Homo sapiens: one gene and its partner. The protein of the gene in region 1 purifies or fractionates together with the protein of each later gene. This does not show direct contact. Each region holds a gene or a part of one and is shown in the gene's direction. Other genes may lie near its edges.

The links.
Region 2: the proteins of DEPDC5 (region 1) and SESN2 purify together in Homo sapiens (affinity purification with mass spectrometry, with the first as the bait; one large-scale study listed by BioGRID). This does not show direct contact.

Annotation. Positions count from the first base shown.
Region 1 is NC_000022.11:31,906,276-31,908,533, forward strand, and holds the end of DEPDC5 (GATOR1 complex protein DEPDC5), read left to right. Parts: coding exon 1-222; 3' UTR 223-1,758; downstream 1,759-2,258. UniProt on the Homo sapiens protein: As a component of the GATOR1 complex functions as an inhibitor of the amino acid-sensing branch of the mTORC1 pathway.
Region 2 is NC_000001.11:28,266,018-28,269,517, forward strand, and holds part of SESN2 (sestrin-2), read left to right. Parts: intron 1-3,165; coding exon 3,166-3,231; intron 3,232-3,500. UniProt on the Homo sapiens protein: Functions as an intracellular leucine sensor that negatively regulates the mTORC1 signaling pathway through the GATOR complex. In absence of leucine, binds the GATOR subcomplex GATOR2 and prevents mTORC1 signaling.

The DNA of each region.
Region 1 (2,258 bases):
ACCAGCTCCACCAACCAGAACATGTTCTGCGAGGAGCGGGTCGGCTACAACTGGGCCTACAACACCATGCTCACCAAAACATGGCGCTCCAGCGCCACAGGGGATGAAAAGTTTGCTGATCGGCTGCTGAAGGACTTCACGGACTTCTGCATCAACCGTGACAACCGGCTGGTCACGTTCTGGACAAGTTGCCTGGAGAAGATGCATGCCAGTGCCCCGTGAGGCCAGGCTGCACCTGTGCTGGGGGAAGGTGGGTGAGCCACTGCCCTCAAACCCGGGGCGGAGGATTCCAGGCAGGCTCTAGGAGTCAGGTGTCCGTTTGCTGCTATCAGTGAGTGGGGGCCATTGTTTTTTGTTTGTTTGTTTGTTTGTTTGTTTGTTTTTGGCCCCCACGACAAGTCTTCTACTCTAGAAGAAAGACTTTGGAAGCAGCTGCTGCTGCTGCCACCACTCCTGTCAGCAAGTGCTCAGAGCAGGTGGGAGGCACAGATTGTCCGTGGGAGGGCTCCAGTGTCTGGGAAGAGGGCAGGCGGCCCCCATGAATGTCCTCGGAAGGGGGTGGCTCCTGGTAGCATCCTTTTCCTTCACCATCTATGGGATATTAGGGGCAGAATCTGCCACTTCTTGCCCAGGAGTGTGCACAGATGTAAGATAATTTTGTGAAATAATGTACCATAGACTCTCACCAACTGTATATACCTGTACATATCAGAAGCAAATAAAGAGCTCCACGTGCATCATTTCTTTCCCCACCCAGTTCCCCACAGAAGCAGTCCCATCCTGGGCTGGGCAGTTGTGCCAGGTGGCCGGGGTCATGGCAGTCAATGAAGTGGTCACAGATGGTGAGAGGGCTTCAGAATTCACTGGCTTAGAGTCTGGCTGGGAGTTTATTGAGAGATTTCTTTCATAGGCCACTGGGCAGGAGCAAGGATGGTTCCAGTGAGGACAGTGAGCAGGCAGTATAACTTACAAGGTAACTGCAGGCTCATGCTGTCAGAATGAATCTTGCTAAATGGGTGAGCTCAGCTCTGGGACGCAGATATGATGGCATTCTGAAAAAAATCAAAGGAAACATTTTGTAGACTCTAACTTAGGTTTTTTTTGTTGTTGTTTTTTTTGTTGTTTTTTTTGACACAGTTTTCACTCTTGTTGCCCAGGCTGGAGTGCAATGGTGTGATCTCAGCTCACTACAACCTCTGCCTCCTGGGTTCAAGCGATTCTCCTGTCTCGGCCTCCCGAGTAGCTGGGATTACAGGCACCTGCCACCATACCAGGCTAATTTTTTGTATTTTAAGTAGAGATGGGGTTTCACCATGTTGGCCAGGCTGGTCTTGAACTCCTCACCTCAGGCGATCCACCCACCTCAGCCTCCCAAAGTGCTGGGATTACAGGTGTGAGCCACCATGCCCGGCCTAACTTAGATTTGCTGAGATAAGACTCAGCTTGGTGCTTCACCTCAGCACCCTGCCTTAAGCTACTCAGGGCAGTTCAGGAGCTGTGGGTCAGAGGGGAGAATCCGACAGTGACTGCCACTTCTTGCTGTGCCATCTCACCACGTGGAGTTCATCACAAGCTCTGTTGATTTGCCTCCTCAATGGCTTTGCATCCATTCTCTTCTTCCCAGGCCCTGAGCTGCCACTCAGTCCAGCCTTCCTTTGTCTTTCTCTTAGATCCCCAGGAAAACCTTCTAATTTGTCTCTGCTTTCACTCCACTTGTCAGTCAGTCTTTTTATAAAACCACTGTGATTTTGCCCACCACTTAACTAGAACTTTTTGGTGACTTGAACTTCAAAAATCTTAGATGCAGCCCACATGGTCCTGCACAGTCTGGTCTGGTGGGCTGTTTGTACAGCCACCCTGGCCATCACACAGTCCCTGGAACATCACAAACTCTGCACCAGCTCAGACGCTTTGCACTTGCTGTTCCCTCTGTTCCATCTGCCTGGAACATGCCTCCCTCCATGCCCGCTCTGTCTCACTAACTCCTGGTGGTCAGCCATCAGCTCTTAGCTCAACTGTCACTTCTCCAGAGAAGCAGAGTTGGCCCTGTTACATCCTCCCACAGCACTTTGTACTTCTCCAGCATGGTACTCAACATGTTTACACTCTACCATGGCAGAAGCTTCTTTTTTTTTCTTTCTTTCTTTTTTTTTTTTTTTTTTTTTTGAGACATAGTCCGGCTCTGTCACCCAGGCTGGAATACAGTGGTGCGATCTCAGCTCACTGCAAGCTCCGCCTCCAGGTTCATGCCATTCTCC
Region 2 (3,500 bases), on another chromosome or scaffold:
TATATGAAGGCCAAGGGCTTTGTCTTTTCACTGCTGTATTCTTGCTGCTTGCAATATAGCCATCAAAAATATTTGTTGAGTGAACAAATTAATTCTGTTTCCACCTAGAAAGCACTTAGCATAGTGCCTTATACTTGAGAAAGTGATCAATAAATGGTGTAAACAATGGTCCTCACCCTGGCTGTTATGCTGGGGCCCCACCCCAGATAACTAAATTAGAATTGCGGGAGGTGGGACCTTGGCATTGTTATTTTTGTAAAGCTTCTCAAAGGATTCTAATGTACCGCTTGGGTTGAGAAGCCCTTGTTTGATACAGCAAGGAGGTTAATGATACCTGACTTTTTATTAAGTGCTTATTGTTATGGAGGTATTGAGGTAAGCTACACAGTGTTATCTCATGAAATCCTCATCACTGGCCAGTGGAAGTAGTTACTGCTATCCCCATTATTTGGTAAAGAAACTGAGGCTCATAAAGCTAAGGGATAGCAGGTGGTGGAGCTGTCATTTGAGCTCATGCAATTTGTGTCAAGAGCCCCATCTTTTTTTTTTTTTTTTTTTTTGAGACAGGGTCTTGCCCTGTTGCTCAGGCTGGAATGCCGTGGTGCGATCATAGCTTGCTGTAACCTCAAACTCCTGGGCTCAGGCAGTCCTCCTGCCTCAGCCTCCTGAGTAGCTGGGACTACAGGTTGTGTGCTACCATGCCCAGCTAATTTACTGTTTGTGGAGACAGGGGTCTCACTGTGTTGCCCAGGCTGGTCTCGAATTCCTGGCCTCAAGCGATCCTCTTGCCTCAGTGTCCCAACGTGCTGGGATGAGCTGCTGCGCCAGCCAAGGGCCCCTATCTTTTAACTGCATTGTATATTGTTGTTGTTGTTGTTATTGCTGAAAGTGTTGATGGATCCAGACCGATGACTTAGAGCTCCTTCTTTTGACAATTCCTGGGTCAGATTTTGGAGTGAGTTGGGATTCCCAAGGCTATTCCTATCCTTCCCTAGCACCCCTGATGGGCCGTCTCTGCCTCCCCCAGTTTTGCTCCACCCTACCCTGCTGTGGCTTGCTATTCTGTCCTCAGGTCCCCTGAGGTGGAGGCCCAGTTTGTGGAGTCAGCAATCCTTATCTCCTATACAGAGCTGTTGGGCTTTTTCTTTGGTGAGGGGGAGGGAAGCTCCAAAGGGGAGTGCTCAGGGATTGTGTTGGTTACTACGCTGAACTTGGACCAGCCTGGCCCGGAAGTTCCCAGAAGTGTGGGCTGAAGGGGGCCTGCACGGTCAGCTCAACTCCCTTTTTGAAGGTAGCTGGGCTACTTTACCTACCAGTTTAGTAGGTAAAGAGAGTTTAGGCCTTTAACTTTCCCAGAGCCACATAGCAAGTTAGTTGCAGAATTGGTACCTATTCCAGAGACTTTGTAGTCTTCTGGAGTCCCAGAGCTCTGCCTCCTCAGTGGGCTTTTGGCCATCTGAGAAGGAAGGTTCAATTATAGTTTTTGGTTCCCGGATACCTGAGGGCTGGTACTAAGTCTGGATCTTAATGGGAAGGGGAGAACTGGGCGCCTCCTATCCCTGTCCAGTGAGAGCATGGCTCTGATTTGGGTAAACTGTAAACAAGACCAGTGCTGAGAGCCACCTCCACTCTCAGATTAACAAAATAAATTAATAAGTAGAGCATCCTTCCTGAACCCCATCTCTAGGACTAGGAGAAGCAGATGTAGTGAGTACCTGATATTAGTGGTTTCTAAAGAGGCTGCAGCATATAACAGGTCAAAACAGTTGCTCCCATCAGCCTTGTACACCCTGCTCAGATTCCCTCCGTGCCTTTCTGCTTTCTCTGTCTTCATTCACAGACTAGTATGAATGACCTGGCGCTGCTCTCCACTAAATGTGATCTGGTGTCAGGGAAACAAAACAGACAATTTGATGACAGTGTTTTTAGAAGCAAAAGCCCTGGGAATTTTGGGGTCATAGGTGAGGGCCAGAAAAAGGTTCCTAGACTATTGTGGTTTAGCTTTGCAAAAGGAGTGACCACTGGGACTGGGCCAGTTGTATCTGGAAGCCCATGGGAGGGGGAGGTAGGGTTTTAAGCCAGTTGATCGGATTTATATTCAGAAAGTTAATGTGGCTACTGGGTAGAGGATGGATAGGAGAGGCCAGGGCTAAGGAGGCCGGGGGACAACTGGCGAGGTTGTGAGTAGTGGTCCAGACAAGAGGGGGTGGTAGTTAATGAGGTGGTGGTGGTGGGAGGACAGATAAGCAGCCAGGCATGGTGACTCCCATCTGTAATCCCAGTGCTTTGGGAGGCCAAGGCAGGAGGATCCATTGAGCCCAGCAGTTTGAGGCTATAGTGAGCTATGACTGCACCACTAAAGAAGAGGCCAGGCGTGGTGGCTCATTCCAGTAATCCCAGCACTTTGGGAGGCTGAGGTGGGCGGATCACCTGAGGTTGGGGATTCGAGACCAGCCTGGCCAACATGGAGAAACCCAGTTTCTACTAAAAATATAAAATTAGGTGAGCGTGGTTGTGCATGCCTGTAATCCCAGCTACTCGGGAGGCTGAGGCAGGAGAATCGCTTGAACCCAGGAGGCAGAGGTTGCAATGAGCTGAGATCGCACCATTGCACTCCAGCCTGGGCAACAAGAGCGATACTCCGTCTCAAAAAAAAAAAGAAGCAAAAGAAGGAAGGAGAAGGAAGGAAGGAAGGAAGAAGGAGGAGGAGGAGGAAGAAAGGAAGGAAGGAAGGAACGAACGAACATGTGAGAGAAATTGAAGCTGCTTCTGAAGCATCTGGGGTACTTGGTTACCTGGCTTCAGGGTGCAAACTGTGGTGTGTTCTTGTATAAGTTCTCTGGGACCACTAAGAAGGTGGCCTCCTGGAGATGTGCAGCATGATGGCTATATAGTTCCTTTTCCAGGACCCTCCCATCCCGCAATGCTGGGATTCTTGGGTCCCAACCCAGTTCCTGAAGAACTCAGCCTGGAGTGAGCCCTCTTTCTTGATTACCCTTCCAAACATGTGTATATCTCCCATCTGGCTCCACCATCCAAAGTATGCTAGAAAGGTGGGTTTAACACTTCAGTGTAGCCCCTTGGATAGGAGGAAGAGGCTGGATAGGTAATAATCCTCTTTATTCTCCCTTCTACTACGGACTAACCTCATATGTTTCCTCCCAGGAGCAGAGGGAGAGCCGGGCTCGGCGAGGCCCTCGAGGGCCCAGCGCCTTCATCCCCGTGGAGGAGGTAAGCTTGGAAGGGGTTAGGGATCTTTGGTCCCTGGGAAGAAAGGACATGGCATATTGGTAGGCAGGCATCTTTTCCTGTTCTTTAAATTGCAGCTTTTAAGCTATTCCTTTCTGATTTCTGATTCATTTAATTCACAAAACGGCTTTGTGAAGCAGGCACTGTCAACTCCATTTTACTGGGAAGAAACAGGCTCAAAGAAATCAAGTGCTAATAGCCAGGTAGTGGCCAAACTTTTTTTTTTTTTCATGCTCAAACTTTTGATTCCT